Linked DNA regions of Homo sapiens. The protein of the gene in region 1 purifies or fractionates together with the protein of each later gene. This does not show direct contact. Each region holds a gene or a part of one and is shown on either strand. Other genes may lie near its edges. The genes, in order: SWAP70, NAA20 and RANBP3.

The links.
Region 2: the proteins of SWAP70 (region 1) and NAA20 fractionate together in Homo sapiens (co-fractionation; one large-scale study listed by BioGRID). This does not show direct contact.
Region 3: the proteins of SWAP70 (region 1) and RANBP3 fractionate together in Homo sapiens (co-fractionation; one large-scale study listed by BioGRID). This does not show direct contact.

Annotation. Positions count from the first base shown.
Region 1 is NC_000011.10:9,744,011-9,747,665, forward strand, and holds part of SWAP70 (switch-associated protein 70), read left to right. Parts: intron 1-3,655.
Region 2 is NC_000020.11:20,027,277-20,030,828, forward strand, and holds part of NAA20 (N-alpha-acetyltransferase 20), read left to right. Parts: intron 1-3,552. UniProt on the Homo sapiens protein: Catalytic subunit of the NatB complex which catalyzes acetylation of the N-terminal methionine residues of peptides beginning with Met-Asp, Met-Glu, Met-Asn and Met-Gln. Proteins with cell cycle functions are overrepresented in the pool of NatB substrates.
Region 3 is NC_000019.10:5,926,006-5,929,660, reverse strand, and holds part of RANBP3 (ran-binding protein 3), read left to right. Parts: intron 1-1,573; coding exon 1,574-1,693; intron 1,694-3,655. UniProt on the Homo sapiens protein: Acts as a cofactor for XPO1/CRM1-mediated nuclear export, perhaps as export complex scaffolding protein. Bound to XPO1/CRM1, stabilizes the XPO1/CRM1-cargo interaction. In the absence of Ran-bound GTP prevents binding of XPO1/CRM1 to the nuclear pore complex.

The DNA.
Region 1 (3,655 bases):
GGAGTGTAGTGGCGTGATCTCGGCTCACTGCAAGCTCTGCCTCCCAGGTTCAAGCCATTCTCCTGCCTCAGCCTCCTGAGCAGCTGGGACTACAGGCGCCTGCCACCACGCCCAGCTAATTTTTTGTATTTTTAGTAGAGACGGGGTTTAACCGTGTTAGCCGGGATGGTCTTGATCTCCTGACCTCGTGATCCACCCGCCTCGGCCTCCCAAAGTGCTGGGATTACAGGCTTGAGCCACTGCACCTGGCCAGATCTTGTAATTTTAAAAATTACGATTGAAGTTTTTTATTAACTTTTAATTTTTGTGGGTACACAGTAGGTGTTTATATTTGTGAGGTACATGAGATATTTTGATACAGGCATACAATGTGTAATAATCACATCAGGGTAAATGGGGTATCCATCACCTCAAGCATTTATCCTTAGTCTTACAAACAGTCCACTATACTGTTTTAGTTAGTTTTAAATGTACAATTAAATTATGATTGACTATAGTCACCCTTTCTGCTATGAAGTTTATTTTTTTATGTGTAATCCTGAAGGTGATCTAGCCACTTCTGAATGAGAACTCAGAAGAAAACTGTTCATTTAAAATGTAGAATACTCAAGTTATTGGCCGGACATGGTGGCTCACGCTCTAATCCCAGCACTTTGGGAGGCTGAGGCGGGCGGATCCCTTGAGGCTCGGAGTTTGAGACCAGCCTGGCCAGCATGGTGAAACCCTGTCTCTACTAAAAATACAAAAATTAGCTGGGCGTGGTGGTGCATGCCTATAATCCCAGCTACTCGGGAGGCTGAGACACTTGAATCCAGGAGGTAGAGGTTGCAGTGAGCTGAGATTGCACCACTGTACTCCAGCCTGTCTCAAAAAAGAAAAAAACAAAAAAGAAAAAATTAAGAAAAATCGAGTTATTGGAAAGTTCTTGAGGCTGAGCCATAATCTGTCCTGTTGTAACTCTTACCCACTTTGGATCTGTAACACCCTGGAGTACACCTTAGTCGTGTCTGTATTCCCAGCAACTCGTACCTGGCACACAGTAAGTACCCAGGGAAATTTTTTTGAATGAATGAATGGATCCAATGGGACCACATGGAACAACAGTCCCTCTTACATTTGATATAATACTTTTCATATATTTGAAGGTTAGAGACTGGGCTCTGGAATGAGGCCACGGTTTGATTCCTGGCTCTGGTACTTTTAGCTGTGTAACTTGAGAGAATGGCCAACTTTATACAGTTGTTGTGAGGATGAAATGAAATGATGCATGCAGAGTGTTTTAGAGTAATGCCTAGCATTTGGGAGTCACTCCGAGTGTGTTGCTTTCTGTTCCTTTATCTCATTTGCAGACGGGGAAGATATATAATGTGTGGAATGTAAAAATAAGCATTCAGAAAAAAGATGTTGACAGGCTAGAATGATGATTTTAGACCAAGAAGCTAATTTAACATATCAAAAGAACAAGTACAGGATCCAGGAGACTTGGCTTTATAGAAATTCATTTGAAAAGTTCTACAGTTTCATTTCCCTGAAATGTGGTTGCCAAAACCCTATACACTCTTAGGCAGCCTTAATGAATGTGAAGTGTCCAGAGCAAATGAGATAATTGTCCCTCTATAATATGAGCTGTTACCTACCAGTACTTGCTGTGTGGTAGGCATGTAAACACCTTATGTGCATTATCGCATTTAATACACTAATAAACCTTTGATGGTAGGTGTAGTTTCTATTCCTTTTTTGATAAATGAGGAAGCCGATACACAGAAAAAGAGTGAGGCACTGAAGTCTTTAGTCAGGAGTCTTACTTGCGAACCACAGAAACCACCTTGTATTAGCTAAAGCAATAAAACAATTTGTTGAAAGTTTCTTAAATAGTTTGCCAGTTCCACAGAAAGGCAGGTGACCAGGCCTTGAACACAGGCAGGAATCACAGGGGGATGAGCAGCCCCAACTACAGCCCAAGCCAGGCCATGGGAAGAGTCCAGTGAGGATGCCGCTGGCGCCCATGTTGGTACCAGGCATCAGCAGTGCCATCGCTCCTGCTGTCACTCAACACTGCATATTACTGCCACCGGCAAGATGAATTCTCTACTGGCTCTGCTTCTTTGTGCCAGGTGCTTCAGAGTCAAAGTTCCAGAAGGAGCATCTACATAGCCAAGCCCAGCTTGTGCCTCCACCATACCCTAGCTGCCAAGGGGTGGGAGGGCAGGTGTCTGGCCTGTGGATTCTATAGCGGGAAATGAGCCCTACCTTCCATCAAGTCTTCTACTATGGCAGTTCCCCTAGACACATGAAGGAGTTCAGAGGCTGGGCAGCCTAAGCACCTGGAAATGTCCATTCCCCCTCCATACTTTTACCACTAGAATGAAAAAACAGACCCATCCAGTCTTGTTCATTCTTATATCCCCAGTGCCTAGAAAAGCACGTAGAAGGCACATAAAAAATACACATCAACTGAGTGAATAAACTCTGCACTGGTCAGACCACATCTGTAGTGTCGTGTTCTGTTGTGTACATCAAACTCCAAGAGACATCTGAGGAGACCTCAGTGTCTCCAAAGAAGGATATTGAGTCTGGAAGCTGGGTCCCATTAGTTAAGGCTGGAGGTGGTCTTCTTGGAGAAGGATGTTCTCAACAGGCAACAAAGCTGCCTTCCAGTTGCGAAAGGGCTATCACAGGGAAGAGGGAGTAGATACTTCCTTTGTGGAACTAGGGTAGTGGATGGGAGAACTCATCTTAGTATAAGAAAAAACTTCGTAAGAATTGAAGCTGCCCATAAATAAACTGGCCCAATTTGTGAGGCAACGAGTGGTAGCCCATCACCTAGAGTATTGGAGCTGAGTTGAATAACAACCTTGCAGGAAGTTGTAGAGGGAATTTGGAAATTGGTGTTGGTATAGTCTGTTACTTTATTCCTTTGTTGTTAGTTTTATAAGAGCAGATGCTGGCAGGTAGTAGTAACTGACCAGTCATGTGACTTGACTTTGTTACCATAATATTGTTGCTCAAGCCACTAGATATGTATCCTGTCCTTGGCTGGCATCGAACGACACTATATACACTTTAATGCAGGTTTTGGCTGTTTGTTAGTTTATTTAAACAACTACATAGCTGGGTATTCCCAGATAGGTATTCCTGTTATTTTGGAGTCACACAGACCTGGGTTAAAATCCATTATAACCTGTGCAACATACTTTTAAACCCTTTGGTTTTTCATTGCTTCATCTGTAATGTAGGGACAATACCTTTCAGGATTGTCAGGGGATTAGCAATAATGGAGGCAAGGGCCTGGCATGTAGCAATTGTTCAATAAATAGTATCTCTATTCTGTCTGCGTTCACTCCTTTCTTCATCTTCATTATCAGCTTTTTCCATGGTAACAGGTTTTTACTAGATGAAAATGTTTTCATGTTGTAGCAACCAGGCAAACTTCAAATCTTGGCCCTGCCACCTGGCAGGTGGATGATCCTAGTACAGGCCACTGAACCTTTGTGTCTCACTTGCACCATCTCTAAAATATGAGTAGCAGCACCTAAATTTACTGTGAGGATTAATTGAGAAAATACACTTGACTCTTAGGCCAGTTCCTGGCACACATTAAACTCTGGATAAATGTTATTTTTTATTTCACAAACGGGTGAAACTGAGAGAGCTT
Region 2 (3,552 bases), on another chromosome or scaffold:
CCTCGGCCAAAAGAAAATAGTTCAGTCTTAAGCAGTTATATTCTAACTGTTTAATAAGTATTTATAGCCTAACAGCTAATAGCCATTTAGAAAAAAAATAAATTGAAAGAAGAAATATTTTCATTTCATTCTTAAATAACTGTGGCTAGCTACCAATGAGAGGTGTGCACCTGTTGGACATTAAATGACTTGGCAGAACCACTTGCATTCCTGTTTCATATTGATTTTCATCTAGTATTTTTTTTTAATCACAGCAACTGCCAGAAACTCAGCTTCATAGAAATATTATGTCATTAAGAGGAATGTAGCATGATCTTACGTTGAATTTGTGAACTACTTCAAACTAGTTTGCCAATATCTGACATGTAAGGTTTTGCTGTTTTCCCTGAACATTCGAAATATCCTTTGGTGGCTGTATGAGTTTGGGACACCTTAGGGCACCTGAGTGCACAGTTTGCGAACTGCCAGCATGGCATTTTTTTTTTTTTTTTTAAGGGACGTGTTGTATATATCAAACCTCTTCATTACTGGAGATAAAAGAAATACAATAAATAGAAGAGAAGGCCCCTCCTCGTATCTTCATTCTAGAAGAGAGATGTTTGTAGTAGCTTCACCTGTTGTCAAGCTGCCATTTCTTTCTCCACTGTAATTTCCTAAAAGTGTGGTAGGAAAGAGAATAGTTGCTGAGAAGGGTTCTTGAGCTTAATTTCTACTTAATTATTAGATTTAATAAAGGCAAGTTTTAAAGAAGTATCTGTGGCCTGACAAAGACTTCAAGCCAAATTAGAGGCAAAGGAGCTCAAACTCATTCAGAGAAGAAATTGTGTTAGCTGAAAAAGAAGTCGGTGCTAATCTTTAAGATTTTTTAAAGTTCTCTCTAGACCAAACAAAGAAGGGAAGAAAATTTTAGCATGATTATAGTTTACACACATTTATTAATGGCATTATGTTGAAAAAAAGTATTTGGCATTATTGTATAGTGAACAGGGAGTTAGAAAGTGGGTTGTTCAATGAGAACACATGGACACAGGGAGGGGAACATCACACACCAGGGCCTGTCGGGGGTGGGGGTCTAAGGGAGGGATAGAATTAGGATAAATACCTAATGTAGATGACGAGTTGATGGGTGCAGCAAACCACCATGGCACGCGTATACCTATGTAACAAACCTGCACGTTCTGCACATGTATCCCAGAACTTAAAGTATAATAATAATAAAAAAAAGCAGGTCGTAACTAGCTATGACCTTGCACATATAATTTAGGGTATTTGTATGATAGATTCTCCCTCTGAGTAGAAGACCACTAAGCTCTCTTCCCTTCCAGTTTCTAAGCCTTCATTATTTTAGACTAGTTGCTAAGATTTAAGTAATCTTCATTTGTAGGCATATATATACATATACACATACATGATACATATACATATGCTTATATACACTATATACATGTATACATAGTGCATACAATGTATACATTAAAAATAGAAACCAAACAAGTAGAGGAGAAGAAAAATTGAATGATAGAAGTCAACTCCAAAGAAGAGAAAAAGGAAATTAAACCAGCAAAACAAAATGCATGAAATAAAATGGTAGCCCAGAATCCAAATATTGTCAGTAATTACAACAGTAAACGTTAATGGACTTAGGACTTTATTTATTTATTATTAGTTTTGGAGATGGGGTCTTGCTCTGTTGCTCAGGCTGGAGTGCAGTGGCGTGATCTCAGCTCACTGCAACGTCTGCCTCCCAGGCTCAAATGATTTTCCTCTCTCACCCTCTGAGTAGCTGGGATTACAGGCGCCCACCACCATGCACGGCCAGCTATGATGACTCTATTTAAAAGACAAAGGCTGTCTGTATTGTTTACAGGAAATATGTGTAAAATATATTAAAATATTTTTAATACAGAAAGATTGAAAGTAAATTTTTAAATTACCTTGCAAATTCTAACCAAAAGAAAGTTAGAATACTTATTAATAATAGTTATAGTTGAATAATTATTACCAGCATAAAAAAGGGTCACTGCATATTGATAAAATATTTAATCAAGGAAGTAACAAGTCTGGGAGTGGTGGCTCATGACTGTAATCCCAGCACCTTGGGAGGCCGAGACAGGTGGATCACTTGAGGTCAGGAGTTCCAGACCAGTCTGGCCAACATGGTGAAATCCCGTCTCGACTAAAAATACAAAAATTAGCCGGGTGTGGTAGCACGTGACTGTAATCCCAGCTACTCGGGAGGCTGAGGCAGGAGAATTGCTTGAACCTGGGAGGCGAAGATTACAGTGAGCCAAGATCACGCCATTGCACTCCAGCCTGTGCAACAGAGCGAGACTCCATCTCAAAAAAAAAAAAAAAAATAGCGATTTAAAATGGTATATACCAAGTGACATCATTTCAAAGTAAAAATGCACAAATTGACAAAACTACAAGGAGAAATAGACAAATTATTATTATAATGGGAGATTTAGACATGCTTTTTTCTAATTGATAGAACAATGAGATAGAAATTTGTCAAGCCTATAGAACAAGAATCAGCAATTTTCTTCTGGGTCAGATAGTAAATATTCAGGCATTACAGGCCACCTAAAGTCTTGGTTACATAGTTTTTTGTTTTGTTTTGTTTTGTTTTGTTTTTAACAACCATTGCAAAAACCATTCTTAGCTTGAAGGCAGTAGCAAAATAGGTTATAAGCCAACCCCTGCCCTAAAGAATTTCAATCAGTAGCCCAAAATCTTTTCACGAAGAAAGCTGTGGCTTCTCTGGCCAATTTTACTAAACATTTAAGAAATAATGACTGAAAGGTCACTTTTACACAAACTATTTTGCACAAGCCAAAAAAGGGAACATTCCTCAACTTATTTTTTAAGGCCAGGATAACCTTGATAACAATACTTGGCAAAATATGGGAAAGGAAAATTCGAGGAACATCTCACTCAGATGCAAAATCTCGGAAAAATAATTAGCAAAGTGGATTTGGCACTACATAAATAGGATGACACATCAGGAACAAGGTGGTTTCAACTTTACACTAAAGGAGAACACTGGTTATTTTAGAAAGTGCAGCAAACTTGATAAAATCCAATATTCCTTCCTGATAAAAACTGTTAGCAAACTGGGAAATAGAAAGGGGGAACTTCCTTAACCTGAAAAATATCTACAAGAAATTTGTAGTAAATATATTTAGTAGTGATACACTGAATGCTTTCCTTTTGAAATTAGGGACAAGTTAGTCCCGCTTCAGTAATTTACTAGAAATTATAGCACAGGAAAGCAGGAAAAAATAAACGATAGGAGGATTGAGAGGAAACAAAACTTATTTTGCACAGATATGATTATATAAATATAAAATCCATAAGAATATAAATATTTAGAATTAATAAAAGGCAAAGTTGTTGGATATAAAGTCAGTATAAAAATCAATTGTATTTACATATGAGAGGAAACAAAACTTACTTATTTTGCACAGATATGATTATACAAATATAAAATCCACAAGAATCTAGAAATAAATGTTTAGAATTAATAAAAGGTAGGCAAGGTTGTTGGATAGA
Region 3 (3,655 bases), on another chromosome or scaffold:
GTTGGGGGCGACCCATGGGGGAACTCCTGGTACCGTCTTTGGGAAAGTGGGGAAGAGGCTTCCCCTCCCGCCCCACACACACACAGAGTCTCAGACTGGTTACAGGCCTCGGGATTCGTTTATCAGTTTAAGCGAATCCTCTAAGCAGGCTCCGCCAGGTCATAGACATACCCTGTAGTCAGAAACATTTTGCTGTTTGCCTGCCCCATCTCAGGTGACTCTGTGGGCTCCACCCACCCGGGATTAGCACCAGTCGGTGTGAGCAGGGGGCACACAGCGCAGAAAGCCAAGAGCCAGGGAGTGTTTCTGCTGGACGGGATGCAGGCGGCCCCAGTGGGGCTGGGGATTAGCCCATCCTCTGAGGACTTCCAGGTCGCCAAACACGTTGTGTGTTTAATTTTAAAAAGCCACGTTCACTCTTGCACAGGCACAAGGATGCAGCGTGAAGTCAGCAGTAGCAGAATTTCTAGGGAGCACAGTAGAGAAACATTTACACTTTTCACTTCCTTCACAGTTGGACCAGAAAGTGCCCTCAGCGCTGTGATCCGCTGATTCTGGGCCTGGCATTGTAACTCCAGGCTTCCCTGCCCGCTGGACACGCTGAGCCAGTCAGAAGCTGCCTGCAGCCTTTCTCACCTCCGAGTTCACGGTTGTCAGGTCCCTTCACGACATCTCCCAGGAAAACACTCCCTGCCTCACGTTCATGTCCACTGTACACATCGCCAGAGACTCCAAAGATCTGCCAAAAGCCTTTTAAAATTTCTTTTCAAATTCTACAACACCTTTTTCATCATGTGGTATAGGAAAGACATATACAAATTACTAGCAACTCCATATTCCATTATCTCAAGATAAATGCATTTGGTCTTAGGATATTTAGTTACAAAAAAGTCATGCCTACATGTTGAAAATATTTACACAAAATGGAAATCCTAGAAAGTAACAAGCAGGAGCCACCCTCCAGCTAAGAGGTTCCCGGGTAACCTCCGTCAGTAGTTTGAATTCTCTCTCCCGACTTATTTTCCTGGGCATTCCTCAACACACATACACACCACACATACACACACACACACACCACACACACGGGACTGGATTGGCTTTAACAGAAATGGAATCGCACTTCCGTGTCCCACAAGCTGCTCTCTTCTCTGATCCATGTATTGTGGGCATGTCAGAGGCCTACCTCCCTCTCGGTGGTAATAGCTGTGCTGTACTTTTTTTCCCCCATATTTTCTATTGTAAATTATTTCATTCCTTGGCCAATGATGAGCAACCAGGTTATTTCCTGTCCTCTGCCGGCACTAAGGCTTCTGCAGGGCACAGGTGTTTCTTGTTGTTTGGAGACAGGTTTTTGCTCTGTCACCCAGGCTGGAGTGCAGTGGTGTGATCTCAGCTCACTACAACTCCCAGGCTCAAGCAGTCCTCCTGTCTCAGCCTTCTGAGTAGCTGGGAGTGCAGGCACATGCAGAGGAGACGTGTGGAGTACATGATCTGGTGTGGGATTGCTGGGCATCCGTCTGGGCCAAGTGTGGCACTGGTTTTGATTACTCTGTTTTGTTTTGGTTTTTGATAGGAGAAAGAGCCCCAGAAAAATGAGTCCAGCAATGCCTCTGAAGAGGAAGCCTGTGAGAAAAAAGACCCCGCCACACAGCAAGCCTTTGTATTTGGGCAGAACTTGAGGGACAGAGTTAAGGTATGTGAGCTGTTGAACCAGCACATTGACTTTTTATGCCTTCCCCAGGTTCAACAGCAGGCAAGTAGGTAGATTTTCCTTTTAACAGGGGAGGGGAGCGTGGGACAAAGAAGGTGTTAGCGAGGCAGCCCCATGGCTCACGGCACAGTCTGCTGCTGGTGTGCGTGTGCTGGGCCCTGGCACTTCCCCACCAGCAGCCCAGGCTTCGGAGCCCTCACCTGCAGTGACTTCTCAAGTCAGGGTCCCTGGTTCTCATGGTAGCGGGGACAGGGAAGGTGACTGAACCTGAGGCCTCAGGCTTTCATAGCAGAGAAGAAAGACAGCACGGTCCAGTGTTCTCAGCTCTGCCCAGAGGTTTCTGTTCCCGTATTTCAGGGTTTCTCTGTTTCAGCACTAGCAGCATTACGGCTGGACCATTCTTAGTTTCTGAGGAGTCGCCCTGGGCACTGCAGGGTGCTGAGCAGCATCACTGGCCTCCACCCACCCAATGCTCCTGACATCTGACAACCACAAATGTCCCCAGACGTGGCCAGTATTCCCTGTGGAGTAGAATCGCCCCCATTAAGAACTGTCACCTTATTTTTTTTTAAGTGGGGCAGGGTGGGGTGACAACACTGTCTTCTCTCCTGAAAGGGAGCAAAGCGTCTGCCACCTCTTGGCTGCCCTCCAGACATGTGGTCCTAGTTTGGAGATTGTGTGGTGGGGAAGGGATGGCAGTGGTTGGAAACAGTGGCCCTGGACCATGCACTGGGACTCTAGGAAGACCAGGGTCAGCCAGCACCACCTTTCCCAGCCACAGACATGGAATGTGCTACGGCATCTCTAGCAGCTCCACTGGCAAGAAGCTTCTTTCAAAGCTCGAGAGGCGGTATCGGTGGCTGTGTCTAGAGACTTTTGTGGTTGTCACAACTGGGAGGTACTTCTGGAGGTCAGGGATGCCACTCCGCCCCTTGCAGTGCCCAGGATAGCCACACCACAGGGAATGTTCTGGGCCCAGTGTCAACATGTCAGTAGTGTCGACGGGGAGGGCCCTGAAATAAACAAAAACCTCTCTAGCATGCAGAAAGCACCGGCTTGTGTTTTCTGCTTTCCTTTCTGTTACTCACCGTCCAACAGAAGCCCAAGTCGAGAAACGTGGAAAGTTGATGTTGCTGTTGCCATGGCTTTAGGCAAAATAATGAGTCCCTCAGGGGCTGTTCCCTCCAAGGAGGGAGGGCAAGAGGCGGGGAAGGGCTTGGCCTGTGGAGTTCAGGCCCTGTGGAATCTCTGCCTTGAGTCTGGGGAGACAGCTGCTTTGAATTTGGTGGGGTTGGCTTCTTGCAGAAGTCAGAGGCTTACGTGCACTTCGCAGTCTCAGTCAAATCCCAGCCTCTCCTTCCAGGGCAAACTTGAGCCATGGATTCTTTTTTTTTCTTTGGACACGAAGTCTTGCTGTGTCGCCCAGGCTGGAGTGCAGTGGCATGATCTCTGCTCACTGCAACCTCCACCTCCTGGGTTCAAGCGATTCTCCTGCCTCAGCCTCCCAAATATCTGGGATTACAGGCGCCCACTGCCACATCCAGCTAATTTTTTGTATTTTTAGTAGAGGTGGGGATTTCTCCATGTTGGCCAGGCTGGTCTCGAATTCCTGACCTCAAGTGATTCCCCGCCGCCTCAGCCTCCCAAAGTGCTGGTATTACAGGCACGAGCCACCGCGCCCAGCCAGAGCCATGGTTTCTTAACCCTCTGAGCCTCTGCTTCCTTGTTGGTCAAACAGGGTCCCTAACATCCCCCTCCCAGGCCTCGTGAGGATTAAAGCAGATCGTGCATTTGACAGACTCAGCATAGCAGCTGGTAGGAAAGAGGCCCTCAAGAAATTCTGCTTCTATCATGTTCATAGTAAACCCCCCAAAACGTCAGCTTTGTAACGTTGTGTTATTGGTATGAAGCATTGACCGAGAGGCCAGCTTAGGCGTGGTTTTA